Homo sapiens: one gene and its partners. The protein of the gene in region 2 purifies or fractionates together with the protein of the main gene of each other region. This does not show direct contact. Each region holds a gene or a part of one and is shown on either strand. Other genes may lie near its edges. The genes, in order: NSMCE4A, ODAD3, IFT88 and FBXL4.

Evidence for each region.
Region 1: the proteins of ODAD3 (region 2) and NSMCE4A purify together in Homo sapiens (affinity purification with mass spectrometry; 3 studies listed by BioGRID and IntAct, with this or other methods). This does not show direct contact.
Region 3: the proteins of ODAD3 (region 2) and IFT88 purify together in Homo sapiens (affinity purification with mass spectrometry; 3 studies listed by BioGRID and IntAct, with this or other methods). This does not show direct contact.
Region 4: the proteins of ODAD3 (region 2) and FBXL4 purify together in Homo sapiens (affinity purification with mass spectrometry; 3 studies listed by BioGRID and IntAct, with this or other methods). This does not show direct contact.

What each region holds. Positions count from the first base shown.
Region 1 is NC_000010.11:121,957,734-121,965,282, forward strand, and holds part of NSMCE4A (non-structural maintenance of chromosomes element 4 homolog A), read right to left. Parts: intron 5,596-7,549; coding exon 5,505-5,595; intron 4,375-5,504; coding exon of another isoform or gene 4,268-4,374; exon of another isoform or gene 4,020-4,267; intron 3,785-4,019; coding exon 3,690-3,784; intron 2,674-3,689; coding exon 2,625-2,673; intron 2,486-2,624; coding exon of another isoform or gene 2,460-2,485; exon of another isoform or gene 1,866-2,459; intron 1,863-1,865; coding exon 1,768-1,862; intron 1,678-1,767; coding exon 1,603-1,677; 3' UTR 1,591-1,602; intron 1-1,590. UniProt on the Homo sapiens protein: Component of the SMC5-SMC6 complex, a complex involved in DNA double-strand breaks by homologous recombination. The complex may promote sister chromatid homologous recombination by recruiting the SMC1-SMC3 cohesin complex to double-strand breaks.
Region 2 is NC_000019.10:11,431,573-11,439,038, forward strand, and holds the start of ODAD3 (outer dynein arm-docking complex subunit 3), read right to left. Parts: upstream 3,550-7,466; 5' UTR 3,445-3,549; coding exon 3,201-3,444; intron 1-3,200. Other genes in the region: PRKCSH (glucosidase 2 subunit beta isoform 3 precursor), read left to right, coding at 4,546-4,624, 4,817-4,933, 6,304-6,399, 6,495-6,552. UniProt on the Homo sapiens protein: Component of the outer dynein arm-docking complex (ODA-DC) that mediates outer dynein arms (ODA) binding onto the doublet microtubule. Involved in mediating assembly of both ODAs and their axonemal docking complex onto ciliary microtubules.
Region 3 is NC_000013.11:20,639,816-20,647,364, reverse strand, and holds part of IFT88 (intraflagellar transport protein 88 homolog), read right to left. Parts: intron 6,076-7,549; coding exon 5,967-6,075; intron 3,911-5,966; coding exon 3,760-3,910; intron 2,523-3,759; coding exon 2,407-2,522; intron 1-2,406. UniProt on the Homo sapiens protein: Positively regulates primary cilium biogenesis. Also involved in autophagy since it is required for trafficking of ATG16L and the expansion of the autophagic compartment.
Region 4 is NC_000006.12:98,874,472-98,882,020, forward strand, and holds part of FBXL4 (F-box/LRR-repeat protein 4), read right to left. Parts: intron 6,154-7,549; coding exon 6,082-6,153; intron 1,257-6,081; coding exon 944-1,256; intron 1-943. UniProt on the Homo sapiens protein: Substrate-recognition component of the mitochondria-localized SCF-FBXL4 ubiquitin E3 ligase complex that plays a role in the restriction of mitophagy by controlling the degradation of BNIP3 and NIX mitophagy receptors.

The DNA of each region.
Region 1 (7,549 bases), on a different chromosome or scaffold from region 2:
TATTCCCTTCATTTAAAATATTTTTACAACTTGGAACAAAAGTATTTCAATTAATTGAAGCACATATTAAGTGCTTACATTAAGTACAAAAAAGTTTATTTTAATGCTCAAAATCAGAAAATTTGAGCTAGAAAAAAAATTCTTAGCAATGATCTAGCTTGAAAATCTTTCCATTTTATAGATATATTTATAGATTAAAAAAAAATAAAGTTGAAGCCAGGCGTGGTGGCTCATGTCTGTAATCCCAGCACTTTGGGAGGCCGAGGCGGGCGGACCACAAGGTCAGGAGTTCAAGACCAGCCTGACCAACATGGTGAAATCCCGTCTCTACTAAAAATAGAAAAATTAGCTGGTCACTGTGGCAGGTGCCTATAATCCCAGCTACTCAGGAGGCTGAAGCAGGAGAATTGCTTGAACCGGGGAGGCAGAGATTACAGTGAACTGAGATCGTGCCACTGCACTCTAGCCTGGGGGTGACAGAGCAAGACTCTGTCTCAAAAAAAAAGAGAAGTTGGGTGAGATTAAGTGACTTGCCCAAGGTTTTAAAGTAAGGGGCAAAAATAAATAAATAAAGTAAGGGGCATAGCCGATAGAATCTAGGTCTTCTGATTCCCACCCACAACTGTCTGCACTACAAAATGTCAGATCATTATTAAGATTTCTTTCTAGAAATGTTACCCTTCATAAAAATGAAGAAGAATTCTTTCATAGCCTAATACAAATTTTAGAAATGCCAATTTACCAAGATTATTCTAAGGTAATTCTATCCTAATCCTCTTTTTCTGCTTTGTACTTATAAAATAAGCAAATCTAATGGGATGGTGAACAACAACATGGATGAGAGGATTCAATATTTCACTTATCTAATTTACCAGTTTGTTGGGGGAAAAGCAGCAGCTGGGTATGGTGACTCATACCTATAATCCCAGCACTTTGGGAAGCTGAGATGGGAGCATCCCTTGAGCCCAGGAGTTTGAGACCAGCCTGGGCAACATAGTGAGACCCCTTCCCTATTTTTTATTAAAAACAAAAACAAAAACAAAACCCACCAAACCAAGAACAATCCTGCACTGCTTCTTTCAGCTGCAAGTCTTTTTTTTGAGACAGAGTCTTGCTCTGTCTCCCAGGCTGGAGTGCAGTGGCACGATCTCAGCCACTGCAACCTCCACCTCCCGGGTTCAAGCAATTCTCCTGCCTCAGCCTCCTGAGTAGCTGGGATTACAGGTGCATGCCACCACGCCCAGCTAATTTTTGTATTTTTAGTAGAGATGGGGTTTTACCATGTTGGTCAGGCTGATCTCGAACTCCTGACCTCATGATCCGCTTGCCTTGGCCTCCCAAAGTGCTGGGATTACAGGCGTGAGCCACCACGCCTGGCCTCAGCTGCAAATCTTAACAGCACAAATTTAATCAATCCAGAGAAGGGAACGCAGAACCACTATCCCTTTCTCACCTGTTACACACAGTTCTAAGAATGGGGCACTACAGGGAGGCAAAAATTCAAATTTCACTGGAATGGGGAAAAGGGATACTTTGGATTGCCAAATGAACTTTAATAGAACTGTGTAGCCATCCCATTGAAAAGGTTACCTTCAGCTAGCATCAAGCACTTGGCTTCTGCTGCCTCTGACTTGGAGTAATCACAGGCTCTGAAATCTCAAAGGTCTTCACAATCTCCTGGCAGACAATAATGAACATTTAGGCACTGGGCTTACTGCAAGTGAAGGCAGAGTCAGAACTATGCAGGGGCAACAGGCAGAGCTTTACCTCCCAGTCACGGTAACTCAAAGCTATAATTCCTTGATTTCTAACTTGTGTGTTATGTTCAAATCCCTCATTTTCTTCATTAATACTAACAGGCTCTGTTTGAAAGACAAATTTTTCAAATTTATCAAAGGTTATTAAATCGGAACAGGTAATCTAAACGGAAACTGATGAATAATAGCAATGAAACCTGTATTGAAAAGATACTTATAATATTACATACTTTTTAGGATTTCATGCATTATGGAGCTGCTGTAGTATTATTACAGTAGCCAGTCATTCCATCTGTTTCCATTTCAAAAAACATGTAGTAGAGTAACACATTCCAGACATTTGAAAATCTGCATATCTATGTGTCAACCACAGAGCTAAGCCCTAGTGAGTCCAATAGGACATTGAGAACATTGAAAGTAGCAAGTAAGTGCGATGGAAATATTCACTCTCCACAGGAGACCTTAGGAGGACATGAGTAATGGAGAGTGTGAAATTATTCAGGTAAGAATGAAAGATTCATAGAACCTCAAAGAGAAAAGAAGGTGCCGGCATCTGACAAAACGTGATTAGAAAGAGGGATACTACAAAAATGACTGCAATCACCAACTTTCTAAATTAAGATCTGAGGGAAATTATATCATTTCTTTGTTAATATTTACAGCAGATGTTGAATCAATGATATAGATGAATCCATCAAAATTTTAGACGCTGGCCATGTTTTCAGTATCTTCAGGTAGTTGAGCAAGATACAATATTGTAAAAGTTAATCTACATTGAAAATTCATTTACATTTAGTAAAATACTTAAATTCTACTAACAAATATATTTTCTCTAAAACTAATTTTTCCAAACATAGTATCATTTACCTATTACTGGCAGTCGGTCTTGGTCAAGTCTTATTCTTGCAAAACCATCCTAAAACGAAAACATGATTTTAGGAGAAGACAAACATTTAAGACTCAAACCTATACGCACTAGATGGAAAAAATTACTCAGAAAATTCAGTATCTCAGAAAATCAAATTACACCATAGCAATAATAAGGTGATGATATAGATAAGACTTCCCTAGTATCTTTTATTTACACAGGGTATCTTTGGGTTTCTAATCAGCTCTTTCACCCAGACACAGCCTCCATCCTGAGAATCTCTTAAGTGAAACTCATCTTGTCTCTTTAACTGATTTATACATATTTTGGAATACTCCACATTTTATTCTGCATAATTCTGTCACTGGGACCACTGGCAAAATATGCCTTTGTTATTATTTCTGAGAAAATACGTTGGTAGACATAGGTTTTCTCTAAGGTTATAATCAAATTCATCTTACATGTGGGAATGCAACCTGAAGTAAGATTAAAGATAGTCTAAAGCAAATTTCCATGGTACATATCTGAGTAGAGTTTTAAAACCAATTTTGAAATAATTTCAGACTTAAAGGGCTATAAGACTACTATAAACACGTGGCATATATCCTTTACCCATATTCATCAGTCGTTAAAGTGTTAGTTACCACGTTTACTTTATCACTCTACATATTATTATTTATGAATGAAGTGAGAATGATAGGCGGCCTGCTTCTTTTCCCTAATCTTTCAGTGTGTATTTCTTGAGAACAAGGATATTATACAACATGACAACTATCAAATGCAGGAAATTTAACATTTATACCATACTGTTATCTAATCTAAAGTTCCATATTCAAATTTTTCCAATTCTTTCTCTAAATAATTTCTAAAACATAAAAGCAAGCATATAAAATTTTAGCTAGCTTCTTCTACCTAATATGCCAATTAATGTTTTGCTACAATGGGTCTGAAACATATACTGGCTAGTGTATACAGATACCTTTGCCAGCTCCCTTCTACAGCTTTTCTTATGTAGCCTTTTAAAAGCATATAAAAGCAATTAGAAAAATAATCTTTAATCTTACCCGTATAATGAAGGAAACATGAAAGATGTTTTCCACTGTACGGGGGAAAGAATGAGGATCAACCACAAAGTCAAAGAAGGACATTGGGGTATCAGCTATAGACAAAAAGAGAAAAAAAAATTGATTTTTGCTTGTCATTAATATCAGTACACTCTAGCGTTAGCCAGAGACAAAGAAAGGATGTGTACTCATTCCTGCTGCAGGAGTGCAAATCAATCCAACCCTTCTGGAGGCCAATTTGGCATCTCTACTAAAAACATGTATGCCCACTGACCTGGAAACCACCTCTAAGAAGCTGTGCTACAGAAATACAAGTGTAACTGCACAAAATTACATACTAAGATTTTTTACTTCAGCAATTTATACAAGAGTAAAATGCTATAAAGAACTTAATCATCCAGCTGGGCATGGCACTCACACCTGTAATCCCAGCACTTTGGGAGGCCGATGCTGGCAGATCACCTGAGGTCAGGGGTTCAAGACTAGCTTGGCCAACATGGCGAAACAATGTCTCTACTAAAAATACAGAAAAAAAATTAGCCAGATGTGGTGGCGCGTGCGCCTGTAATCCCAGCTACTCAGGAGGCTGAGGCAGGAGAATTGCTTGAATCCAGGAGGTGGAGGTTGCAGTGAGTTGAGATGGTGCCACTGCATTCCAGTCTGGGCGAAAGAGTGAGACTGTCTCCTAAAAAAAAAAAAAAAAAATAGGAACTTGGCCGGGCGCGGTGGCTCATGCCTGTAATCCCAGCACTTTGGGAGGCCGAGGTGGGTGGATCACAAGGTCAGGAGATCAAGACCATCCTGGCTAACACGGTGAAACCCAGGTTCTACTAAAAGTACAAAAGAATTAGCCAGGCGTGGTGGCGGGTGCCTGTAGTCCCAGCTACTTGGGAGGCTGAGGCAGGAGAATGGCGTGAACCCAGGAGGGAGAGGTTGCAGTGAGCCAAGATCGCGCCACTGCACTCCAGCCTGGGCGACAGAGCGAGACTCTGTCTCAAAAAAAAAAAAAAGGAACTTAATCATCCATTAATGGAGGATCTGTTAAATATATTTACAGTACAGCCATATAATGGGAATCAGTGAACAAAACAAGGGAGATCTATATGAAATGATGTGGAAGAATGTCCACATGGAAAAGTCACGTAGCAGAAGAATGTGCATATTATGATTAGCTTGGAAAAAAAGAAAAAAACAAACTTTTTTTTTTCAGATGTAGTTTCGCTCTTGTTGCCCAGGCTAGAGTGCAATGGCGTGATCTTGGCTCACCGCAACCTCTGTCTCCCGGGTTCAAGCGATTCTCCTGCCTCAGCCTCCCAAGTAGCTGGGATTACAGGAATGCACTACCACACCCGGTTAATTTTGTATTTTTAGTAGAGATGAGGTTTCTCCATGTTGGTCAGGCGGGTATCGAACTCCCAACCTCAGCCTCCCAAAGTGCTGGGATTACAGGTGTGAGCCACCACGCCCGGCCAAAACAAACTATTTAGGTAGGTGTGTATAAAACTGATAAAATAATCTGAAAATATACACATTACATTTTATAATGAGGGGAGGTGGAACAGCTACTTTTGACATTTCTCACTTGAATGGCATATTTCATTTTGTAACAAAAAAAATCCCCATCTTTTAAAGATAAAAATGAAAACGTTAACTTCAAAGTTTTCACATGAAATTTCTAAAGGGGAGAAGAATCCTCATAAAATGCATATGTATTTATTCAAATATTACATACAGCTGAAATTGCCTTTTAAATACAAGTAACCTCAGTGAACAGATAAATACAAATTGCTCCACTTTGAATGGTGTTACACTTACGATCTTCTCGAAAATATGTCTGCAACAATCCCAAGATTCTTTCTACTTCTTTCTCTGTTGCTTCTTGATGAGATTCTTCCATTCTTCTTAACTGAAAAAAGTCATTATCAAGCTGACAGACCTACTTACTGGCCTATTAACGTTTTCTTCTCTCTTGCACACCCAAACTCCTTTTCTTCTCTCTTGCACACCCGAACTCTTTTTTTTTTTTGAGACAGGGTCTTGCTTTGCCACCCAGGCTAGAGTGCAGTTGCATGATCTCGGCTCACTGTAACCTCAGACTCCTGTGCTCAAGGGATCCTACCACCTCAGCTTCTTGAGTAGCTGGCACTAGAAGCGTGCACCACTACACCTGGCTAATTTTTTTTTTTTTAATTCATTCTACCTTGTCTAAGACACCTGGCTAATTAAAAAAAATTTTTTTAGATATGGGGTCTTGCTGACCATCCTGGCTAACACGGTGAAACCCCATCTCTACTAAAAATACAAAAACTTAGCCAGGTGTGGTGACAGGCGCCTGTACTCCCAGCTACTCAGGAGGCTGAGGCAGGAGAATGGCATGAACCCGGGAGGCGGAGCTTGCAGTGAGCCGACATCGCGCCTGTAATCCCTGCGCTGTAGGAGGCTGAGGCAGGTGGATCACAAGGTCAGGAGTTCGAGACCAGCCTGGCCATTATGGTGAAACCGTCTCTATTAAAAAACACCAAAATTAGCCGGGCATGGTGGTGCCTGCCTGTAATCCCAGCTACTTGGGAGGCTGAGGCAGGAGAATGGCTTGAACCCAGCAGGCGGAGGTTGCAGTGAGCCGAGATCGCGCCACTGCACTCCAGCCCGGGTGATAGGGCAAGACTCTGTCTCAAAAAAAATTATGGTTTAAAAAAAAACAGATTTTCTGGTTTCAGTAACTTTTTTTTTTTTTTTTTGAGATGGAGTCTTGCTCTGTGGCCCAGGCTGGAGTGCAGTGGTGCCATCTCGGCTCACTGCAACCTCCGCTTCCCAGGTTCAAGCAATTCTCCTACCTCAGCCTCCAGAGTAGCTGGGATTAGAGGCACCCACCACCACATCTGGCTAATTTTTTGTACTTTTTAGTAGAGACAGGGTTTCACCATGTTGGCCAGGCTGGTTTCTAACTCCTGACCTCAGGTGGATCTGCCCGCCTTGGCCTCCCAAAGTGCTGGGATTACAGGCGTAAGCCACCACACTCGGGCAACCTTTGTTTTTTTTGAGACGGACTCTCGCTCTGTCGCCCAGGCTGGAGTACAGTGGCATGATCTCGGCTCAGTGCAACCTCTGCCTCCTAGATTCCTAATTCTCCTGCGTCAGCCTCCCGAATAGCCCGGACTACAGGCACCTGCCACCATACCTAGCTAATTTCTGTATTTTTAGTAGAGACGGGGTTTCCCCGTATTGGCCGGGCTGGTCTCGAACTCCTGACCTTGTGATCTGCCCGCCTCGGCCTCCCAAAGTGCTGGGATTACAGGCGTAAGCCACTGTGCCTGGCCTCAGTAACATTTTCATATCAATTTCTTAATAGAATAGTAACATTACCAGATTAACCATTTTCAGGTTGAACATAAAATAGCAAAATACAAAAGGGCGGTTTAGAAACAGTGGTTCTCGAGTGGGTGTGACTTTCCCCCCACCTCCCCAGGGAACATTTGTTGTCACATGTAGACATTTTTGGTTGTCACAACTCAGGGGTCGGGGGGGCTATTAGCATATAACAGGTAGAGGCTGGGGATGCCGCTAAGCATCCTACAATGCGCAGGACAGCTCCCCAAACCAACATTATCCAGCCGTAAATGTTGACAGTGCTGAGGTTGACCCTGGCTTCGGAGAACTGATCAAAACTAGAGAAATGAGTTAAAACAAAGACAAGCAGCCAATCCAATAAAATGCTTAAAGGCTTAAATAAAATGATTATTTAAGTGACAAAACCTGGCTCCAGACCCGCACACTTAGAAAAAATGGCCAAATTGCATGCACATTATTTTAACAGCTATTTTAACTTTAATGTGTTTTTTTAAAAGCAACATTTTAAAACA
Region 2 (7,466 bases):
CTGAGGTCAAGAGTTCAAGATCAGCCTGGCCAACATGGTGAAACCCCATCTCTACAAAAATACAAAAATTAGCTGGGCATGGCCGGGCACGGTGGCTCACGTCCATAATCCCAGCACTTTGGGAGGCCAAAGTGAGCGGATCACGAGGTCAGGAGATCGAGACCATCCTGGCTAACATAGTGAAATCCCGCCTCTACTAAAAATACAAAAAAAAAAAAAAATTAGCCGTGCATGGTGGCAGGCACCTGTAGTCCCAGCTACTCAGGGGACTGAGGCAGGAGAATGGTGTGAACCTGGGAGGCAGAGCTTGCAGTGAGCCGAGATCGCACCACTGCACTCCAGCCTGGGTGACAGAGCGAGACTCTGCCTCAAAAAAAAAAAAAAAAAAAAATTAGCCGGGCATGATGGTGGGTGCCTGTAATCCCAGCTACAGGAGGCTGAGGCACAATAATTACTTGACCTCTGGAGGTGGAGGTTGCATTGAGCTGAGATCCTGCCACTGCACTCCAGCCTGGGCAACAGAGCAAGACTCTGTCTCAAAAAACAAAACAAAACAAAACAAAAAACCCCAAAATCCTTCCATACTCAAGTCCCACAGTCAGCCCTGTGGAACCTGCAGATACAAACAGTTGTCCCTCTGTATACTCAGGTTTTGCATTCCAGGACTGTTGTATTTTCTTTTCTTTTCTTTTTTGGGACTGGGTCTTGCTCTGTCACCCAGAATGAAGTGCAGTGGTGCTATCACTGCTCACTGAAGCCTCAACCTCCTGAGCTCAAGCAGTCCTCCTGCCTCAGCCTCCCAAGTAGCTAGGACTAGAGGCATGTGCCACCACATCTGGCTACTTTATTTTTTGTAGAGTCAAGGATCTCACTATGTTGCCCAGGCTGGTCTCGAACTCCTGGCCTCTAGCAATCCTCCTGCCTCAGCCTCCCAAAGTGCTGGGATTACAGGTATGAACCACTGTGCCCGGCCTGCCCATCTCAATTTTTTTTAACTTGAAAGGATGAATGATATATGTGAACACATGGTGTTCAACGGTCAACTGTACTTCACTGTGAGCATTTATTATGTGTTGGATGCTGGACTAAGAGGTTTCCGAATGCCATATATCACGTGCCAATAGGTATCCATGGCATACGCATATCATACCCCTTGCACAGATGACAAGACAGAGGCTTGGGCTGATTAAACTGCTTAAGGTCACAAGCAACCATGCAAGATTACCCTTTTTTTTTTTTAAGACGGAATCTCACTCTGTCACCCAGGCTGGAGTGCAGTGGCGCAATCCTGGCTCACCGCAACCTCCACCTCCTGGGTTCAAGCCCCTCTCCTGCCTCAGCCTTCCAAGTAGCTGGGATTACAGGCGTGCGCCACCATGCCCGGCTAATTTTTGTACTTTTAGTAGAGATGGGGTTTCACTATGTTGGCCAGGCTGGTCTCAAACTCCTGACCTCAAATGATCCGCCCACCTCAGCCTCCCAAAGTGCTGGGATTACAGGTGTGAGCCACCTCGCCCAGCCATGATTACCTCTTAATAATATCAACAAAAGCAATAATAATAGCTTACACACAAGGATTCTGCAACCTCAGGATGACCAACAACTGGGCCGAATAATTATTTGCCGTGGGGTGCTCTCCTGTGTTTTGCAGAATGTTGGGCAGCATCTTCAACTCTGCCCACTAGATGCCAGTGGCAGACACACACCCACAACAGACATCCATGCCACCATGCCCGGCTAATTTTTTGTATTTTTAGTAGAGACAGCGTTTCACCGTGTTGGCCATGCTGGTCTCAATGTCTTAGGACATTGCCAAATGGCCCCTGTGGGGCAAACCAACCCTTTTCCAACAAGAACCACTGGTTTACACCTTATGGTACTTTGCTATGTGCCAGGCACTGTTCTAAGCACTTTACACATTTCAGGTACCTATGTTGTACTGTTACTATCCCCATTTCACACATCGAGAAACTGAGAACAATTAGGTTACTCTTAGTCCCCCAAGGTTGGACAACTATTATGCAGAGCCAGGATTCCAACCCAGAAAATCTGGCTCTAAAAATCTATGCTCAGGCCAGGTGCAGCGGCCCATGCCTGTAACCCCAGCACTTTGGGAGGCTGAGGAGGAAGGATTGCTTGAGCCCAGGAGTTTGAGACCAGCCTGGGCAGCATAGTGAGACCCCATCTCTACAAAAAGTAAGAAAATTAGCCAAGCACAGTGGTGTATGCCTGTAGTCCCAGCTACTCAGGAGGCTGAGGTGGAAGGATCGCTTGAGCCTAGGAGGTCAAGTCTGCAGTGAACTGTTATCCAACCACTACACTCCAGCCTCAACAGCAGAGCAAGACCCTGTCAGAAAGAAAGAAGGCTGGGCGCGGTGGCTCACACATGTAATCCCAGCACTTTGGGAGCCAAGGCCGTGGATCACTTGAGATCAGGAGTTCGAGACCAGCCTGGCCAACATGGTGAAACCCAGTCTCTACTAAAAATATAAAAATTAGGTGTGGTGGCACGCACCTATAGTCCCAGCTAGTCAGGAGGCTGAGGCTCGAGAATCGCTTGAACCTTGGAGGCAGAGGTTGCAGTGAGCCGAGATCATGCCACTGCTCTCCAGCCTAGGCGACAGAGCAAGACCCTGTCTCAAAAAACAAAAAACAAAACAAAAAAAAACGCGGGTGCAGTGGCTCACGCCTGTAATCCCAGCAGTTTGGGAGGCCGAGGCGGGCTCACGCCTGTAATCCCAGCAGTTTGGGAGGTCAAGAGATTGAGACCACCCTGGCCAATATGGTGAAATCCCTCTGTACTAAAAATACAAAAATTAGTTAGGCGTGGTGGCGTGTGCCTGTAGTCCCAGCTACTCAAGAGGCTGAGGCAGGAGAATCGCTTGAACCCGGGAGGCGGAGGTTGCAGTGAGCCGAAATCGTTCCACTGCACTCCCACCTGGCAACAGAGTGAGATTCTGCCAAAAAAAAAAAAAAAAATAGAGAAAATAAATTACAAGAAAGTATGAAGTACAGTTCAGTCGGTTCTGAACCCATGAGAAGTTTTAAGAGACAGAGAAGGAAAAACATGAACTAAGTATGAGTTTTTGCCCAGAAACGGTTTACCTAGACTCATGCTGGAGAAATACCTTTGTCACACCATGAAGATTGGATGGGCACTGTTGACCCCTGACCCTCTGTACCCTCTGGAGCCATCTTACCTAACAGTTGTATCTTTTTATGTAACTCAGCCACCTGAGAGTGCACAGAGGGCTTCCCTGCACCTCTGTGGAAGGATCCTCCCTTGGAACGGCCTGGGGTCCACGCCTGGGCTGTGCCCTTGCCTCGGAGGTGGCTGGGTTTGCCCGAAGCCTCCCTGCCCTTGACCCTGGAAGAGGGCGTCGAAGCCTGGTCCTGAGGAGGCAGGGCGTTGGCGGAGGCCGCCCTGCACAGAGGAGATGTCATGATGGGGTTGGGGCTGAAGGCCCCTAGGGGTTAGGGGGATAACTAGGAGTCAGTCGCCCCTGTCAGGGATCCGTCAGCTCGGATTCCTAGGGCTCTGAAAAATGCACTTTCCGACCGCTAGGTGGTTGCGCTCCGCATCTCTCGGTTGCCAGGTAACCGCCTCCCCGTCTCTCTCCACTGTTTCCATGGAGATCACCCGCGTTCCGTGGCTGACACTGCGTTCTCATTGGCTGAGGCTGCATAGAGGGGCGGTCCCAACAGTGGGCGGGGTAGAGCCGCGCCGCAGGACGGAGGGTCTGGACACTTTGGGGTCACGTGCTCATTCCGTTTCCCTACCTCCCCCAACCTTATCCCGCCCCTGGGGGTTCGCGGGCATTTTTCAGGAACTTTCTTTCCGGCTTGAGAAGCCGCCACTCCCAAGATGGAGGTACGCTGCGCCGCCATTAAGAGCTAGCCCTCAGAACTATCCTCTCTAAGGTTTCACAGTCCTGCCCAAGATGGCCGTCTCGGCTCTGGCACCGCCCCCACTCCTGCCTCTCCCAACATGGCGACCCTGAGTCTCCGTTCCCGGTGCGGAACGTACGACCGGAAGTGACGGGGTCCAGAAATTTCCGCTTTCTTTCTGCAGCAGGAACCGCGGCTGCTGGACAAGAGGGGTGCGGTGGATACTGACCTTTGCTCCGGCCTCGTGTAGGTGTGAACGAGCGGGTGGGAGGGCACCTCAGTTTCTTACAGGGGGCAACCGGAGGGTGCATGTGTGGGTGTGGACGGCGGAGGCTGTTAATCCCTTTGGTCTGTTGGCGGGAATTGGGTCACAATTGGGCACAGGGAGCGGAGGTTTTGAGATCTTGAGATCCTCGCCATTGATTTGAGCAAAGTGAGACTGGCCAGGATTGGGGAGATCGCTGCCCCTCGCCCCCATATCGGAAACAAAGTGAGGCCTCATTGCCTGGAAGCGATGGAGGAATCCAATTGGCTGGAAGTAGCCCTCTCCCACTGACCGGGATCCGCTTTCTTCCTGCAGCGTGAAGACACAGCGCATCTCCCCGCTGTAGGCTTCCTCCCACAGAACCCGTTTCGGGCCTCAGAGCGTCTGGTGAGATGCTGTTGCCGCTGCTGCTGCTGCTACCCATGTGCTGGGCCGTGGAGGTCAAGAGGCCCCGGGGCGTCTCCCTCACCAGTGAGTCCTCCTGTTCACCCTCCCGCCAGGCTGGAGGTGGGAGGGGCCAACATTGGGCCTTAGGGATAGGCATTTACAGCCTTTTGACTCAGTTTCCCGGTAGTGCTCCGCTGGTGGGGATGGGAGGACAGAGGTGGTATTTGGTGGAGAAGGCGCTTACCTGCCCTGGGCTGAGCTTCCTGTACCCCGCAGATCATCACTTCTACGATGAGTCCAAGCCTTTCACCTGCCTGGACGGTTCGGCCACCATCCCATTTGATCAGGTCAACGATGACTATTGCGACTGCAAAGATGGCTCTGACGAGCCAGGTGAGCCTTTTCTCTGTTCATCCATCAGATGTTTATTGAACACTGCTCAGTGCCAGGCCCTGTCTGTGTGACCAAGATACTACCTCTGCTGGCTCCCCTTTGAGTGGGCAGAAACAAGCTCAGAAGTCAGTGGTCAGTGTTATGGCCCCGGGCAGCTGGAGGAGCCCAGAGTCGTCCTCCTCCCAAGCCTCGGGGTCAGAGAAGGCTCCTCCAAGGAGGTGAGGTTTCAGTTGAATCCCGAAGGTGCTGCAGATGGAGGGGTCAACACGGGCAAACCCCTAGAAGTGGGAGACAGGGTGGGGCCAAGAGCAATCCAGCAGGAGACAGAGGTGAAGGGAGACCCTGGCTTTTTGTTTTTGTGTGTTTTGAAGAGACAGGGTCTTGCTTTGTTGCTGAGGCTGGAGTACAGTGGCATGATCGTAGCTCACTGCAGCCTGGAACTCTTGGGCTCAAGTCATCCTCCTGCCTTGGCCTCCCAAAGTGCTGGGGTTACAGGTGTGAGCCACCGTGCCTGGATGAGACCGTGTCTTTGGTTTTGTTTTTGTTTTGAGACGGAGTCTTGCTCTGTTTCCCAGGCTGGAGTGCAGTGGCGCCATCTCGGCTCACTGCAAGCTCCGCCTCCCGGGTTCACACCGTTCTCCTGCCTCAGCCTCCTGAGTAGCTGGGACTACAGGCACCCACCACCACGCCCAGCTAGTTTTTTTTTGTATTTTTAGTAGATACAGGGTTTCACTGTGTTAGCCAGGATGGTCTCGATCTCGTCACCTTGTGATCCACCCGCCTCGGCCTCCCAAAGTGTTGGGATTACAGGCGTGAGCCACCGTACCTGGCCTTGTTTTGTTTTGTTTTTAATTTTTTTTTTTGAGATGGAGTTTCACTCTTATCGCCCAGGCTGGAGTGCAGTGGCATGATCTTGGCTCACTGCAGTCTCCACCTCCCGGGTTCAAGCGATTCTCCTGCCTCAGCCTCCTGAGTAGCTGGGATTACAGGCACATGCCACCACATCCGGCTAATTTTTCGTATTTTTAGTAGAGATGGAGTTTCATCGTGTTGGCCAGGCTGGTCTCAAACTCATCACCTCAGGTGACCCACCCGCCTCGGCCTCCCAAAGTGCTGGGATTACAGGTGTGAGCCCCCGTGCCAGGTGGAGACCCTGTTTTGAAGGGCCTCAGTGAGAAGAGGCAGGAGGCGGCACTGGAGAGCTTTATTTCGAGCCCTGGCTGTGCAGTGTACAACTCTTTCCTTCCTTTGGTTTCCTTTCCTTTCTTGTGCTGTGTGCAGTGTGGGTCAGGGGCTCTTATCTGTGGATGGATGGGACATGTCTGTCCCTGAGCTGACTCCGAAAACCTTCCCTCCCTTCTTCCTCACAGGCACGGCTGCCTGTCCTAATGGCAGCTTCCACTGCACCAACACTGGCTATAAGCCCCTGTATATCCCCTCCAACCGGGTCAACGATGGTGTTTGTGGTAAGTGAAGATGCACCAGGATTCTGGAAAGGTGGTAGAGGGAGGGAGGGAGGAGGCACTGCCAGGTCTGATCTTGGCTTCTGCCTCTGCCACAGACTGCTGCGATGGAACAGACGAGTACAACAGCGGCGTCATCTGTGAGAACACCTGCAAGTACGTGGGTGACAGTACCCCTCCCATCACCCCACCCCAAGACTTTGCCTGGCTCCACCCAGTGAATCGGGCCCACTCTCTCTTCTGCTTTTCTGTATCGGGTTCTCTGTCTGTGCCAGGTGCCTTGTGAATCCTAATCCCCACCTTTCCCTCTAGTCTGGAAGCAGGTAGGATTGTTTCCCGATTCAACAGATGGGGGAACTCAAGTTTAGAAAGGGAAATGACTTCCCCAGGGTCACATAGGAGATAGCAGAGCCGGCACTTGGACTCTAAACTTTCCATTGTCACGCTCTGCAGCAGGTCCTGAAAACCGAAACACCCACAGGCAGGTAAAGTATACAACGGAAGGAGGCCAGGCGCGGTGGCTCACACCTGTAATCCCAGCACTTTGGGAGGCTGAGGCAGGCGGATCACGAGGTCAGGAGATCGAGACCATCCTGGCTGACATGGTGAAACTCCGTCTCACTAAAAATACAAAAAATTAGCTGGGTGTGGTGGCGGGCGCCTGTAGTCCCAGCTACTCGGTGGGCTGAGGCAGGTGAGTGGCGTGAACACGGGAGGCAGAGGTTGCAGTGAGCCGAGATCGCACCACTGCAATCCAGCCTGGGCAACAGAGTGAGACTCCGTCTCAAAAAAAAAGCAAAAAAAAAAAAAGCATACAACAGAAGGAGGCCAAGTATGAGGCAATACGGAGGGGTGGGGATTGTGGCATCTAGGGGAACAGCTGTTCTCAATTCCTGCCAGCTGATCCTTTTGTAGTTCATAGGCATGATGATTTATTTTTATTTATTTATATTTTTTGAGACAGGGTCTCACTCTGTCGCCCAGGCTGGAGTGCAGTGGCGTGATCTTGGCTCACTGCAACCTCTGCCCTTCGGGTTCAAGCAATTCTCACACCTCAGCCTCCCAAGTAG
Region 3 (7,549 bases), on a different chromosome or scaffold from region 2:
AAAAGCCTACATTTTTATTGTAGAGGTAGAACTTACAGAACAAATCAAAGCTTAGCATGTAAAAAAGAGAAAATGTGAAAAATTAAGATATATGGTATAGAAAACAAATGCTCAAAAGAGATGTAATATAATGAATGTATATTGAATAAGTTTCTGTCACTGAGAAGGAGATAACAGCAGGTGCAAGTGGAAGTAAGTTTATAGAAAAGTAGAGAGAAATGTTAGGAAGGTTTCTAAAAAAGGCTTCTATATTCTGGGAAACCGAGGCATAAAATACATAGGGGAATTGAAGAGATCAGAGAAACAGGAGGGAGAGAAATACTTAAGACTGATGAGCAGTGCTCATATCACACAGATTTGTGTAGCATCAATTCACCTGGTTACATAATTTACCTTTGACAGTATTTCACAGCCTGTGTAAAGGAATGGAATCAATGGCTGGAATAACCTAAGAACTGAAATCTCTTGGAATAAATGGGGTAGTAAAGCGAGAGAGAGAGAGAAAAAAAAAAACAGGAATGTTAGCAAGAAAGGGAAAAGATGTGACCAATTAAGCAATCTAGTATGGATAAGCTCAGAATTAAAGTCAGAAGGAGGCTGAGACTGCAAGATAAGGGGAAGGTCAAGAGGGGAGGTCTCAATATCACCAAAGAAAAATGCACTGGAAAATAGGGAGTATGGAAGTTGGAAAGGTAAGAGGTTATGTTCAGACAGCTGGACATTGTAACTTAAGATTTTATTGGTGTAGGCTGGGCGTGGTGTCTCACGCCTGTAATCCCAGCACTTTGGGAGGCTGAGGCGAATGGATCACTTGAGGTCAGGAGTTCAAGACCAGCCTCACCAACATGGTGAAACTCCGTTTCTACTAAAACAAAAACAAAAACAAAAACAAAAATTAGCCGGGTGCAGTGGCATGTGCCTGTAATCCCAGCTACTCTGGAGGCTGAGGCAGGAGAATCGCTTAAACCTGGGAAGCAGAGGTTGCAGTGAGCCGGGATCACGCCACTGCACTCCAGCCTGGGCGACAAAGCAAGACTCCGTCCTCTGTCTCAAAAAAAAAAAAAAAAAGATTTTATTGGTGTAAATGTGTTAGTGATAATCACAATCAGATGAGTCAGGTGACTGAACTACAGAGAGGGTAAAGATCAATGGAGTTAGGGAGGTCAAAACTTGTGGGACTAGAATAGTGATGGAAAGAAAAGGAAGAATATAAGCTAGACTAGGTAAGGTAAGGGACTGACTGTTAATCAACATCTGACATTTACAAATAGGAGTTAAAAATGGAACAGTGGCGGACTGAGCCTCAAAGAAGGAAGAGTGTTGCATGAGCTAATGGCTAATGTTAGAGTAGTATTAAGTGTAATTAAAAAGCTTACAGTGTATTACTGAAATAGCTTTAATCTTAAAGATATAATTAAACTAAAACTATCTCCTCATCCTTGGTAATTAATTTTATAATTCTCAAAAGAAATTTATGTGAAATAAATATCACAAAATGAATTGCCTAATAGAAATTCCAAACAGAAATCATTTCACTTATTAAGCATTTCTTTATCATTCAAATTATTCTAAGGGGCATTTGTTCTTAAAATTCAATATGGCCAAATACAAAGCAGAAGATGATGTATTCCAATTATTTTTGAATTGTTTTGAATCAGATATGTATAACACATTCTGATACGAACTTAAAGACACTGAAAACATTTTAATTTTTCATATATATTAATTATAAATTGAAACCAACAAAACTGTCTTGTATTAAGACTCTTTTAGAGATGAAACTTTGTCCTAGGACTGAGATAAGTCATTTTCTGATTGATAAAGGAACAATAATTGTTTGCTGAGGTGTAAGAAAAATACATAAAGAAAAGTATCTTAAAGAGGATATTTAAAAAATTCTATGCAAAGGGAAATATATTTATCACAATAAAGACCAAGTAAAATGGAATAAAATATAAGAAAATAAAAATAATTTGGCTGGGCGCGGTGGCTCATGCCTGTAATCCCAGCACTTTGGGAGGCTGAGGCAGGTGGATCACCTGAGGTCAGGAGTTCGAGACCAGCCTGGCCAACATGGTGTAACCCTGTCTTTACTTAAATACAAAAAATTAGCCAGGCATGGTGGTGCGTGACTGTAATCCCAGCTACTCGGGAGGCTGAGGCAGGAGAATCGCTTGAACCTGGGAGGCGGAGGTTGCAGTGAGCCGAGATCACGCCATTGCACTTCAACCTGGGCAACAAGAGCGAAACTCCGTCTCAAACAAACAACAAACAAACAAAAATAATTTATGAATGTCCATCAACATCTGTTCTTGAATTTACTAGGTCTATCAGATACTAATTCTAGGGATTAAAAAAACTCAAGACATGACATTAACTAAACATAAAATCCTAATGATTACTTACTGTATAAGAGAAGCTCTTTCAAAGTACTGAATAGCTTTTTCCCAAAATTGGGTGTCAATGTAATAGGCTCCAAGCCACTCAATGACTTCAATATTACAAGGAAAATACCTATATGACTGTAAAACAAATATGGAATGTAACAATACAACTTCAATGGCAACATATAATTTACTTCTTGAATACTTTACCTATTGAATAAATTTATCCAATATGGAATTTCTTAATAAAGGAGTATGAACTGTCCTAAGTACTTTGTAAATTCTGAAACTATATAATATTTAGAAAACCTAAGCTTTGCTTGACACACTTTTCAATTATCTATACTTTTGATATAACAATATATGAGCTGAGTCCAATTTAAATATTTAAAAGAATAAAAAAGAGATGCAAATCGTGCCTCAAGAGAAAAATGAACTGGTACTTCTTTTTATTATTAATATTATTAATTATTATTATTTTAAGACAGTCTCGCTCTGTCACCCAGCCTGGAGTGTAGTAAATGCGATCTTGGCTCACTACAACCTCTGCCTCCCAGGTTCAGGCAATTCTCGTGCCTTAGTCTCCTAAGTAGCTAGGATTACAGGCATGCCACAACCACATTTGGCTAATTTTTGTGTTTTTAGTAGAGAGGGGGTTTCCTCATGTTGGCCAGGCTGGTCACATACTCCTGGCCTCAAGTAATCTGCCTTCCTTGGCCTCCCAAAGTGCTGGGATTAAAGGTATGGGCCACCAGGACTGTCCTTTTATTATTATTTGTAGAGATGGGGTCTTGTTATGTTGCCTAGGCTGTTCTTCATCTCTTGGTCTTAAGCAATCCTCTCACTCTGGTCTCCCAAAGTGCTGGGATTATAGACGTGAGCCACCATGCCCAGCCCTATTTCATTTTTTCATTAAAACAAGTAAAAAACTAACTTCAGGCCTGGCGTGGTAGTAATCCCAGCACTTTGGGAGGCTGAGGCAGGCAGATCACCTGAGGTCAGGAGTTCGAGACTGGCCTGGCCAAGATGGCAAAACACCCCTCTACTAAAAATACAAAAATTAGCTGCACGTGGTGGCAGGCGCCTGTAATCCCAGCTACTCGGAAGGCTGAGGCAAGAGAATTGCTTAAACCCAGGAGGAGGAGGCTGCAGTGAGCCGAGACTGCACCACTGTGCAGCAGCCTGGGCGACAGAGCAAGACTCTATCTCAAAACAAAACAAAACAAAAACTAACTTCATTTTCCAAGAATGCTTTATTTTAAATAAATCATTTTAAAACTGGTAAGATCTTCTAAAATTTTAAAGCCTTGCTGCCTTCTTTATAACAATTCATAAAATGCTAAAACACAGAAGGAAATTAAGATAACACACCTACCTCATAGTAATATTGAAATGCTTGAGATTTATCTCCTTCACGATCATATAATTCTCCTAGCTTAGATAAAACTTGAGGATCGGTTGGAATAACACTGACCACCTGCATTAGCCATTCAATAGCTTGACTGGGATTTTCCATTAATTCATATCTTATGCAATGTCAGTTAAGGAAAACATGTTTTCTAAATTCATTAAGCAATAAGCAAACTTAAAAAACATTACAGTAACAATATTTCTTAGCCTACAGTAATGTGCTATTGTATACTGTTTCCTCTGGATATCTCAGGGGTGGAGATGGAATGCAGCAGTACTGTGGAGGTAACACTCTTGCTCCCTATGTATATAGCCTGCTTTCCCTTTTCCTCCATTACTATCCACTAAGATCAACTCCCAAATTTCTGGTAGAATTATTCAAAGTATTGTCCAAAAATTGTCCTTAATAAAAATGTCCTGAATGTTGCATCCAGTTATTCTTTTTCTTAACATGTTCAGCATATTAAGGAAATTATTTCCATGTGTTTTTCCTGTGAGTTTTCCCTAATTAGATTATAAACCCAAGGACAGTGTTGTTTTTTTTTTTTTTTGTAGCTTCCTTTTAGTACCTACTAAGTCTTCGGTGTATATACAAATAATTTATTCATATCAGTACTTTTTGATTAATTACTATTTATTTTATACATATTAGATATCTCAGTGAAATGAAAATATTCCAATTCAAAGTTTATTGAAAAAGAAGCATTGTTTTCAATGGTGACAAGAGTGACACCAGAAGATCTACTGTTTTTAACGATGACAAGTGTGATACCACAAGAAAAAAAAAAAAGAAAATGTACTCAAACAGTCTCAAATACATCAGTTGCTTGACTGGATCCAAGCTGATCATGAACTGGGTGGTAAAAGATAATGACACTGGCAGTTTCAGAGAAATTAAATGAACAAAACAGAACAAAAAGACTAACAGGAGTAACTATGATGCTATCTGCTCTAAAACTAATTTTTTTTTGAGATAGTCTAGCTCTGCACCTAGGCTGGAGTACAGTGGCACTATCTTGGCTCACTGCAACCTCTGCCTCCCAGGTTCAAGTGATTCTCCTGCCTCAGCCTCGGGAGTAACTGGGATTACAGGTGCCTGCCACAACACCCGGCTAATTTTTGTATTTTTAGTAGAGATGGGGTTTCACCATGATGGCCAGGCTGGTCTCGAACTCCTGACTTCAAATGATCCGCCTGCCTTGGCCTCCCAAAGTGCTGGGATTACAGGTGTGAGCTACTGTGCCTGGCCTAAAACTAAAATTTTTCAATAAAATTCTTTATCAAAAGTACAGCAGATAGTACTTAAAATTATTAATGGTACACCTCACAACATATAAAATTTTCTAAACATATTTGTATAAAATTTAAACCAAGATAACAGTAAGTTGAAAATCTACCTAAGATGTTTAACTCTTCCCAATGTTGTGGCCAAAGCTTACCAAAATAAGGAGAGAAATTAAAAGTGCTTTTCAAATAGCATGAAAAGCATTAAAAACATTAACACATTTCTGCTTTTCTAACCAAGAGCAGGGCTTATTAAGAAAGCTAAGTGTTGTGGAAGAAACTGATATTAGCGCAACATTTTGTAGTTCTACATTCCCCTGAGTTTGAAACATAATACTGATACACATAGTATACATTCAATAAATGACTATTAAATGAACAGAATGAATGAGTTCATATGAAGAATTACATAATTTTAGAGGGTAACAGTCTTTGGAGACCTCATTATATCTACAGGCCAGCTAAAAAAGTAAGAAAAATTATCCAAATTCAATCAATAGTAATCAGTAATAAACAGTATTTTATTTAGTAAGTTAGTGCTTCAATGATACCCTACAAGCTTCAGAATTAATACAACGTTCTAAAGCACCAAATTGACTTTCAATGAATGGCTTATATGTACCGAAAATGTCCTAATTACTTCAGTTATTTTCAAAATTTAATAAATAATAGTTTTAACCATTAATTCCTCTTTCGATGCAAACTACATCTTAAAATAGGATTACTCAAATGATATTTATCACACAATAATCTGCCAGATTATCCTCATCACTTACTTCAAATATTATCCTCATCAATTACTTCATTAGTTAAACTTATTTAATAATTGATCTTCAATCACCAATTGAGAGAATTAATAACTGTCCCTAAGGTTTTCAAATAAGATACATATTTGCTATCTGGTAAAGAACTTCGGCACTGTTTCGTAGGATTGCGTGAAGTTTCAGGAAACAGTCCAAAGCCTCATCTAGCCGATTTAGTTTCTCATAGGTAAGGCCTTAAAAAAAGAAGAAAAAAAAGAAAATCTATAAGTATCATTATTGGTATTAATTTATTTAACATAACAGAATAAATCTCAAAATATATGAAAATATTTATCCAGAAGAGAAAATGAAGATGAACTCAGGTTTTTGTTTTTTGATACAGGGTCTCACTCCTGCTGCCCACACTGGAGTGTAGTGGCACAAACATGGCTCACAGCAGCCTCGACCTCCCAGGCTCAGGTGATTCTCCCACCTCAGCCTCTCAAGTAGCTAGGATTATATGCACGTGCTACCACGCCCAGCTAATTTTTTGTATTTTTAGTAGAGACGGGATTTTGCCATGTTGCTCAGGCTGGTCTGGAACTCCTGGCCTCAAGCGATCCACCTGCCTCAGCCTCCCAAAGTACTGGGATTACAGGTATGAGCCACCACACCCGGCCAACTGAGGATTTTTTTAAAGAATAATGTTAGGGTGGGGATTCTCCACTGGCAGACACCAAAAGATGCTACAAAGCTTCAGTGATTTTAAAAGTGTGGTAGGGGGCAGGAATAGACAAACAGACCAATAGAACAGAATAAACAGTTCAGAAATGCACTCAACTATAGAGTTTAGTTAAAGACATTTAAAATCAGTGGGGAGGAAAGTGCTAGTAATAAGTGGTGCCAGAACAACTGACTATACATTAATTTGTATTTATTTATTTATTTATTTATTTATTTATTTATTTATTTTGAGACGGAGTCGCTCTGTCGCCCAGGCTGGAGTGCAGTGGCACAATCTCGGCTCACTGCAAGCTCCGCCTCCTGGGTTCATGCCATTCTCCTGCCTCAGCCTCCTGAGTAGCTGGGACTACAGGCGCCCGCCATCACGCCTGGCTAATTTTTTATATTTTTAGTAGAGACGGGGTTTCACTGTGTTAGCCAGGATGGTCTCGATCTCCTGACCTCATGATCCGCCTGCCTTGGCCCTCCCAAAGTGCTGGGATTACAGGCATGAGCCACCACACCTGGCCATTAATTTTTTTAAATGTAGATTCTTATTTCATAAAAAATGAACTCAAAATTTTGAAACTCAACAGAAAAAACAAAGCTATAAGAAGAGTATGAAAAGAAAATACAGAAAAATGATTTATAATCTTGAGTTAAGAAGGGCTTCATAAAGCAATAAACAAATGAATAAAGCAATAACCACAATTATTTAAAAAGACAAATTTGGCCAGGCGTGGTGGCCCATGCCTGTAATCCCATCACTTTGGGAGGCTGAGGCAGGTGGATCACTTGAGGTCAGGAGTTCCAGACCAGCCTGGTCAACATGGTGAAACCCCATCTCTACTAAAAATGCAAAAAATTAGACGGGCGTAGTGGAGCGCACCTGTGGTTCCAGCTACTTGGAAGGCTACGGCAGGAGAATCACTTGAACCTGGAAGGTGGAGGTTGCAGTGAGCTGAGATCATGCCACTGCACACCAGCCTAGACGACAGAGCAAGA
Region 4 (7,549 bases), on a different chromosome or scaffold from region 2:
AAAACACCTTAAGTATAACATTTATATAATGTGCTAACAATGAATCCATCCATGATTTATTGTTTGTAATGAACTTAAAATAACCCTTTACAAATTAAAATCATTTTTTCAAACATGACTTCATATTGAAATGGTTCTGTTAAAAAAGTAAAAGTTGAATTTTCCAGCCAATTTAGCATCTAGGACCTGAATCTTGCCAATATCCTACCCACTATCTTCATTCCTACCTCCTACCCCTTCAAATCAGCTCCTCCAGACTTTCCTATTTCTGTCACCCCAGTTCAAAATGGTTTTCACCATGCATTTGATGTAAAATGTGCAAGTGCGATATGACTTCACAAAGTATCAATTGTGTGGACAATGATAACTACTGTGACACTGCTAGCACCCCTGGCTAAAAGTAAGAAGCAACAAAATTACACAGGGTTCCTTTCTGATGAATGCAGCAAGGATTCAAGAAATCCCAGAGCTGGAAAAGATTTTCAATAGATCTGCCTGGGGTAGAACTATTCCTAAACGCTAGAATTATCAGGGATAAAGATTTCACGATATTCCTTAATCAAGAATTTTAATTAAGAAACTTAAAAAAAACTAGCTTGAATTCATTATACAAATGAATTAATTTCTTCTCTCCTTAATAAAAATAGAGAGCGCAGCTCATGTAAATTCTCACTCTTACAAGTAGACCAAGAATTAATGGTTATAGTTTTTTACAGTTTCAACTATAAAATTGTTATTGTCCTCACTATTTTATTAAAGTACATATATAATTATTCCCTATATTAACTGATCTATCTTGCATTTCCTATCAAACCAAGCCATCTTATCAGGATAAAATTTTTATTGTATCCAAAAATTTTCTTTTTCCTAACAAAAAGTCTGAGATTGGCTTTTCTGTCAAGGAAACAGACATTTAAAACAAATTTATATATTGTAACCTTACCTAATATGTCCAGCTGCTGTAACCTGGTACAATTACATGCCAATTCATCAATGTCTGTGTCACACACAGATCTATTAGCTGTAAGAAAGAGTTTTTGCAAGTTTGGGAGCTGGTGTGCCAGTCTGGTGAAGCACCCGGTGCTGCTCTGCAGAGTTGGGCACCAGCCAAGGTCAAGCTCCTCCAGTAGTGGACACCCAGAAGCCAGTTCTGCTATTCCATTCTCAGTAATATTCTTACATCTCCACAGATCCAGGGTCCGGAGTTTTTTACACTTGGCTCCTATCATGCTAGCTATCACATCATAGTCTTCAATCTGGAAATCAAATAATTCCAATCTTTTACATGTTATGCTCAGACATGCAAACTGTTTAGAGTAAGTCAGATTCTTAATTATAACCTATTGCTTTGCTTCCATGTAAACAAATCCACATCCTTGTTAATACAGATCTGCCCACTGACCTCACGGATCTGCCACTGTTTCATAAAACAGCCAGGAGTACTCATTTATTTAAAAATCCATTTAAGAGCACTCCAGACAGAAGATGTTAATGAATTAAATCCCAAAGCAGTCTATGTCTTCAGTCTCTCATGAAGAATTAAAGGATTATATGTTCTTCTTTTATGCCCACCATTTCAACCTTGCTGCTGCTACTCATTGACAGCACCTACTTTCCTCCGTTTTATATATGGCTAATATACTTTGGCAAGTATATATGATCTCCCTGATGTGTATCTGGTAGGCTCTAAAACACTATGTGGAAATGCTGATAATACTAATAAGGATACTAGTTTTGGCTTAAATGAGGCATTTGGGGACTGCATATACAACATGAAAATAATTTAGATTACAATATGTTAATCAACTGTCAGTTATTGGAGGTGTCCAGTGCTTACCTCATGATTACAGGACAAGACTCTACTAATCAAGGATTAAACATTTCAGTTATTGGGCTTTACATGCTTTAATAATGTTTCTTTAAATAGGTTATTTTAAGAGGTTCATTTGATTTTGCTAAAATCAGATATTAAAATTATCACAAGGAAAATTATCAAAAGGAAACAAAATAGTAAACAATTACAATGATTATTTCTTTTTGTTCTTTTGTTTAATTGTATTTTCAACAAACATCTACGCACCACTCCAGATGCTAGGACCAGCAGTAAACTGAAAAAAGGAGACACTGTCCATATTTTTAGGAAAGACACACAGACTAATTAAGGAAAAAATACATTCAAAGAGTGACATATAGTGGGAAAATAATAAAACAGAGTGATGTGAGAGTGATCAGAGTGTCACGGGTTGAGGGAAGAGGTGGTAATTGCTGAAATCTCCAGGAATGAGGTTGATGCATTCGAGGAACAAAAATGAGATCCATACAGTCCAAGGGTGGTGAGGGAGAGGACGGGCTATGGAGGGCAGAGTCACGCAGTGGCCAGGACATTTAGACCATGAAGGAGTTAGATTTTTCTTTCAAGTACTAAGGAAGTCAATGGAGGGTTCTAAGCAAAGGAGTGACATATTATTATTTACATAAAAACTGACACAAAACCACCTCTGGCTTCTGTCTGGAGGATGGGCCTATAGTGGGGAGGAACGGAGAAGGAAGCTCATTGAAGAGGTCTGCAACAGTGTAAAGGACAGATGACAGGGACTTGGATTAAGGTGGCAATGATGGAATGAAGAAATCCGACAGATTTGGGGCTGCATTTTTGAGTTAGAACCAAAGGCTGACAGATTAGATATAGAGGTAATGATTTCTAAGGTTCTGGATGTCAGTGTATGTATGGTGGAATCATGCGGAAGTCTATGAGAAACAGGTTTGGGGGAACATATCTCCTTACGTGAGTATACCTGAACAATACAAAACTGTGGGTTTGATAATTAGGGCAGCCAATTAGCTTACTTAGAAAAAAAAAATTTAAAAACTTTATGAAACCTATGATTCTGACTGTGCCCAATTTGTGCCTGGGCAATCTCAGCAGCATTTGAACAAATTCTCTACTAGCATAGAACACAGTGAGAAATTCCTTCAAGAGTTTTTTGTTGTTGTTGTGAAATTATCACAGCACTACTCATGCCAAATTCAGGGCTGGGAAAATAAAAATGAAACTAAATACTTTTTACTGGAACAAAGTCAACCTATCCCTCCTTTATTAACTATAATTCCTTCTAAATTTTAGATATTATGCAGGACTCTTTTTTCCCCAAAAATATTAGACATATTTATTTTCTTATTCATTATCTAATTTTAAAAATAGGGCAAATGTCACAGAGGAACTATCAGCAAGAATTTAAGTGACCTAACCAGGATCACATAATTAGTAGGAAACTTAAGAAAATAGCAGGTAGGTCTTAGGATTCTTTAATTTAGGCAACTTTAAATTACTTCAATCAGCATTATATAATAGTGGAATTTAAACTTTTTAAAGTCATTTTTAGAAGTAAAAAGAAATAGATAAAATTTGTCTCTTTCCCAATCAAGAGGAAAAATAAATATTTCTAAGTAGTCCTAAAAACATGTTTACGGCATTGACTAGAATATTCAGGTTTATTACAGGTGAGACACTGCTCCTCAGAAGTTCTTGTCACTGCAAATCTGTCTAACTGGCACTTGTGGCACAAAGATTAGTTTCAGAAAAAAAGTGACACAACTAATTTAGTATCTACATTAAACTCACTACAGAGAAAGTATGCCATGAGGTGAATACTCAGCGAAGGTATATAATAGATCACAATCACCATGGGAAAGTCAGCACAGTGCTCTATGTATGTATACTGTGAACAGTTGCTTCATAAATATCACAAATCTAAACATTGCTATTATATTGACAGTCAACAATAAAATGTAATATGGAAAATGTAATATAGAAAAATGAGTTCAGTAGTCAGGCAAGGTTTGAAAACACTGGTTTTAGCAAAGGTAAACAGTTTCTTTGTTGTAGCACACACCATTGTAAAACTCTAAGACCAGGCTGGAGTGCGGTGGTATAACCATAGCTCACTGCAGCCTCAAACTCCTGGGCTCAAGCAATCCTCCTACATCAGCCTCCAGAGTAGTTGGGACTATAGGTTTGAGCAACCATACCTGGCTTCCTAATTTCATTAGGAATCTCCACTCCACCCCCAAATACACAGCCTTTAAAATTGATTATCCTTTAGAGGTAATTTTCCATGGGTCAACTCTGGAAAATGCTAACTTAAAATAATACAATTTCAATTATAAGCATATATATAATTCCAACAGTAAAGAGTCTATGGCCAGAGGCTTGATTTTCTAAGGAATGTTGCTCCAGTTTAAGGGGAGGTAAATAACAAGCAGAATAAGGTACATCTAAGCAAAGTTAAATGGTCCTTACCAATCTAAAGAGAGCAGGCTAGCAATAAGGAAGATCCAAGTGGCAGTAACTGGCTGGTTTGTTGTGACAGAAACTGCCATCAAATGTCATCGGGTCCATCAAGAAGAGTCACTGAAGAGACCCACAGAAGCCTATCAAATGGCTTACTATGGAAAGAATTTGACCAGAAGTGAGGAAAATCTAGTGGGCTCCCAAGACTGTTTCTAGAGACTGAGATGGCCTGAGCCCATACTTAGGGTTTAATAAGACCTAACCACAAGATTTTAAAGACCATGGGGACACAGAGATAAATATGTCATCAAAAGAGGCCTACTTAGTCTACACTGCCAAATCTTGAGGCATTTCTGAAGCCACACTGAGCTCTAAGAGGTGTTCAAATGGTACTCATTTTAGGTCAGGGACCCTGTCTATTGACTCTAATAAAATATTTCTCAAAATGTAAGGTTACTTAAAGCAAATACTCCCTAGCATACCAGAAGTTTTCTAGAATCTTGCAATCATTTTGCTAATTCAAGTCTTCCTACTAAGTGAATGCAAGGCAGAAATGGAATGGTCTGGGGATCTCCTAAACCTACATTGTTTTAGGGAACAGGGGATGAAGTGAGGAGGAATGAATTCTTCCAGTCAGTTACACTGGAAGATTCACTTACGGTATGTGTGCACACAAACACACACATGCACACCTTCTCCACACAAGATTTCTATTGTCCTTTATATCTCAGTATTATTTAAAAGCTATATAATTATGTGGTTTAGATTAAAACATTTAACTCTTTCCATGAGCTCTTTCAAGGGCACATAAAATCGTATTTTAAATCTGGAAGGACTAGGCTGGGCGCAGTGGCTCACACCTGTAATCCCGGCAATTTGGGAGGCCGAGGCGGGCGGATCACAAGGTCAGGAGTTCAAGACCAGCCTACCCAATATGGTGAAACCCAAGACCAGCCTGCCCAATATGGTGAAACCCAAGACCAGCCTGACCAATAGGGTGAAACCCCATCTCTACTAAAAATACAAAAAAATTAGCCGGGCATAGTGGTACATCCCTGTAATCCCAGCTACTTGGGAGGTTGAGGCAGGAGAATTGCTTGAATCCGGGAGACGGAGATTGCAGTGAGTCAAGATCGCGCCGCTGCACTCCAGCCCGGGCAACAGAGCAAGACTCCATCTCAAAAAAAAAAAAAAAAAAAAAAAAATCTGGAAGGACTTTGAAGCTTATCTAGTCCAACAGTCCCTAGGCTTTTATATTTCACAGACCAGTAAAATTTCCACACACAAAAAAGAGTTCCAACATAGGGTGTTAATCTTTCTGTTTTGACCAGTAAGGACAGTAAAACAAACACAAAAACAAACAGATAAAATAAACCTATCTATTATCATTAAAATTTCAAGAAAAGTATCTCAGGATTTAAAAGCTAAAATGAGCTTAGTGAAAAACTTACTGAACTATCGGCATTTAGGTATGACTAACACCTTAGTTTGTGAAGAAACCTAGAGAGGTGATTAGCTTGTCGGAGACAACATCTGGCTTGAGGCAGAACTATACTCTATTCCACCACACTATACTTCTTTCCTTGCTCTCATGGATAAATAATGTCAGTGTTTCAAAGACATACTTTCCAATTTAAGAAAAATGTTTGAAAGCAAGGGACAAAGAAGAGAACCATAAATCTGAAAAACTGTGGGTGTGTGTGGGGTAGGGTGAGTCAGGATACATTTCACCCATAGGAAGAAAAAGAGAACAAGTAATTGAGTAGTATAAAGAATTCTCAAACACTTACCATGACACAACTGCCTAAACTGAGGTGCTGAAGCTCTGAACAGAAGTTCAAAATGCTGAGCAGTGCTGTTTGCTGCCATTAGGGACCACATCAGAGGCAAATATGGAAAGTGAATGAAAGTGAAACAAAGAGAAGAGGTCAATTAGACATTAAAGGCTGTCACTGCTTTTCCTGAAATGCAGCTCAAAAGCTAGGTTACAGAGTCCACAAATGCCATTTAATGAGTCCCCAGAGGCTCCACCATTGATTGGCTTGGAGTCAAGGTAATCATTACTAGTCTCCATGTAAGTAATCACTTTGTGTATGGTTTTGGATGCCCTAAAGATACCTATATTCCCTATGACCTCTCGGTTCATTTCCCAAAGGTAAGCAATTTGAAAGTCTGGCTACAATTGAACAACAAGACAAGCTAAACCACTCCTCCCTCCAAAAACAAAAACAAAAAGACAAAAAACCCGCAGCAGGCTGGTGACACTCCTGAAGAATGGCTGCAGCTCTGACATTCACTGATCAGCTGCAGCTTGATGGAACTGCCAATAGAGTCACCCCAAATCAGGATTGAGCTGGTGACTTTAATGTCAAAGGATTCTCTTTGCTGACAAGGATACCAACAACCATTGAGCACCTGTCAGTAGCAACATGCTGACTGAAATATATATAATATGTACTTTCTAGTCATGTTCCTGCCATTTAAGCCCATCTATCCTGTGCAATGAAAATGGTCTCACCACTAAAGAAACCCAAAGACTGCTACATAATCATGGCACCCTAAAATATTTTTTTAAAAAAGTCTGCTATGAAAAATTGTGAAAAACAAAATAATGCAAAATATTCAAATTTCTAATTTTTCTTTTATCAATTAAGGAGAAAACTATTCAAACTTACATGGCAAAATATCTTATACATTTTTAAATATATTTAAAAATTAAGATATTATACAACTTCTGTAAAAATCTGTTCCAAGTGATCAGAAACTAAAAACTATCAGTTGAGGGAAAGGTGAAGAATGTGTCAATGAAAATGTAAAACATTTGGTCAAATCCCAGATAAAGATTCTCATTGAGAAAATAAAGTAATAAAATATTTCTCAAATGTAAGGTTACTTAAAGCAAAAATAATAATAGTTACAATAGGCCACAGAGGACTATTATACTTAAGTCTAATTATTTCATTATTGAGCATTTCTTTGAATTTAAACAAAAAAAGTTTATATTGATTTTATACTTAAGTTTCAACATAACAACATTTATAAAACAATCCCATGTAGCTCTCAGAATGTTAACATTAGAAAGGGTATATTAAGATAATTTAATTTTCAGGTTCTTCACAATACTTAGCCATGTTAACTAATTAACAGACAGGAACATAACATTAGGTTTGTTTTTTTTTTAATTACAGGACCATATCCATATTAAAAGGTTGTTTTATAAGATTTTCCCTTAAGTAAGATCCAGAGAATATTAGAATT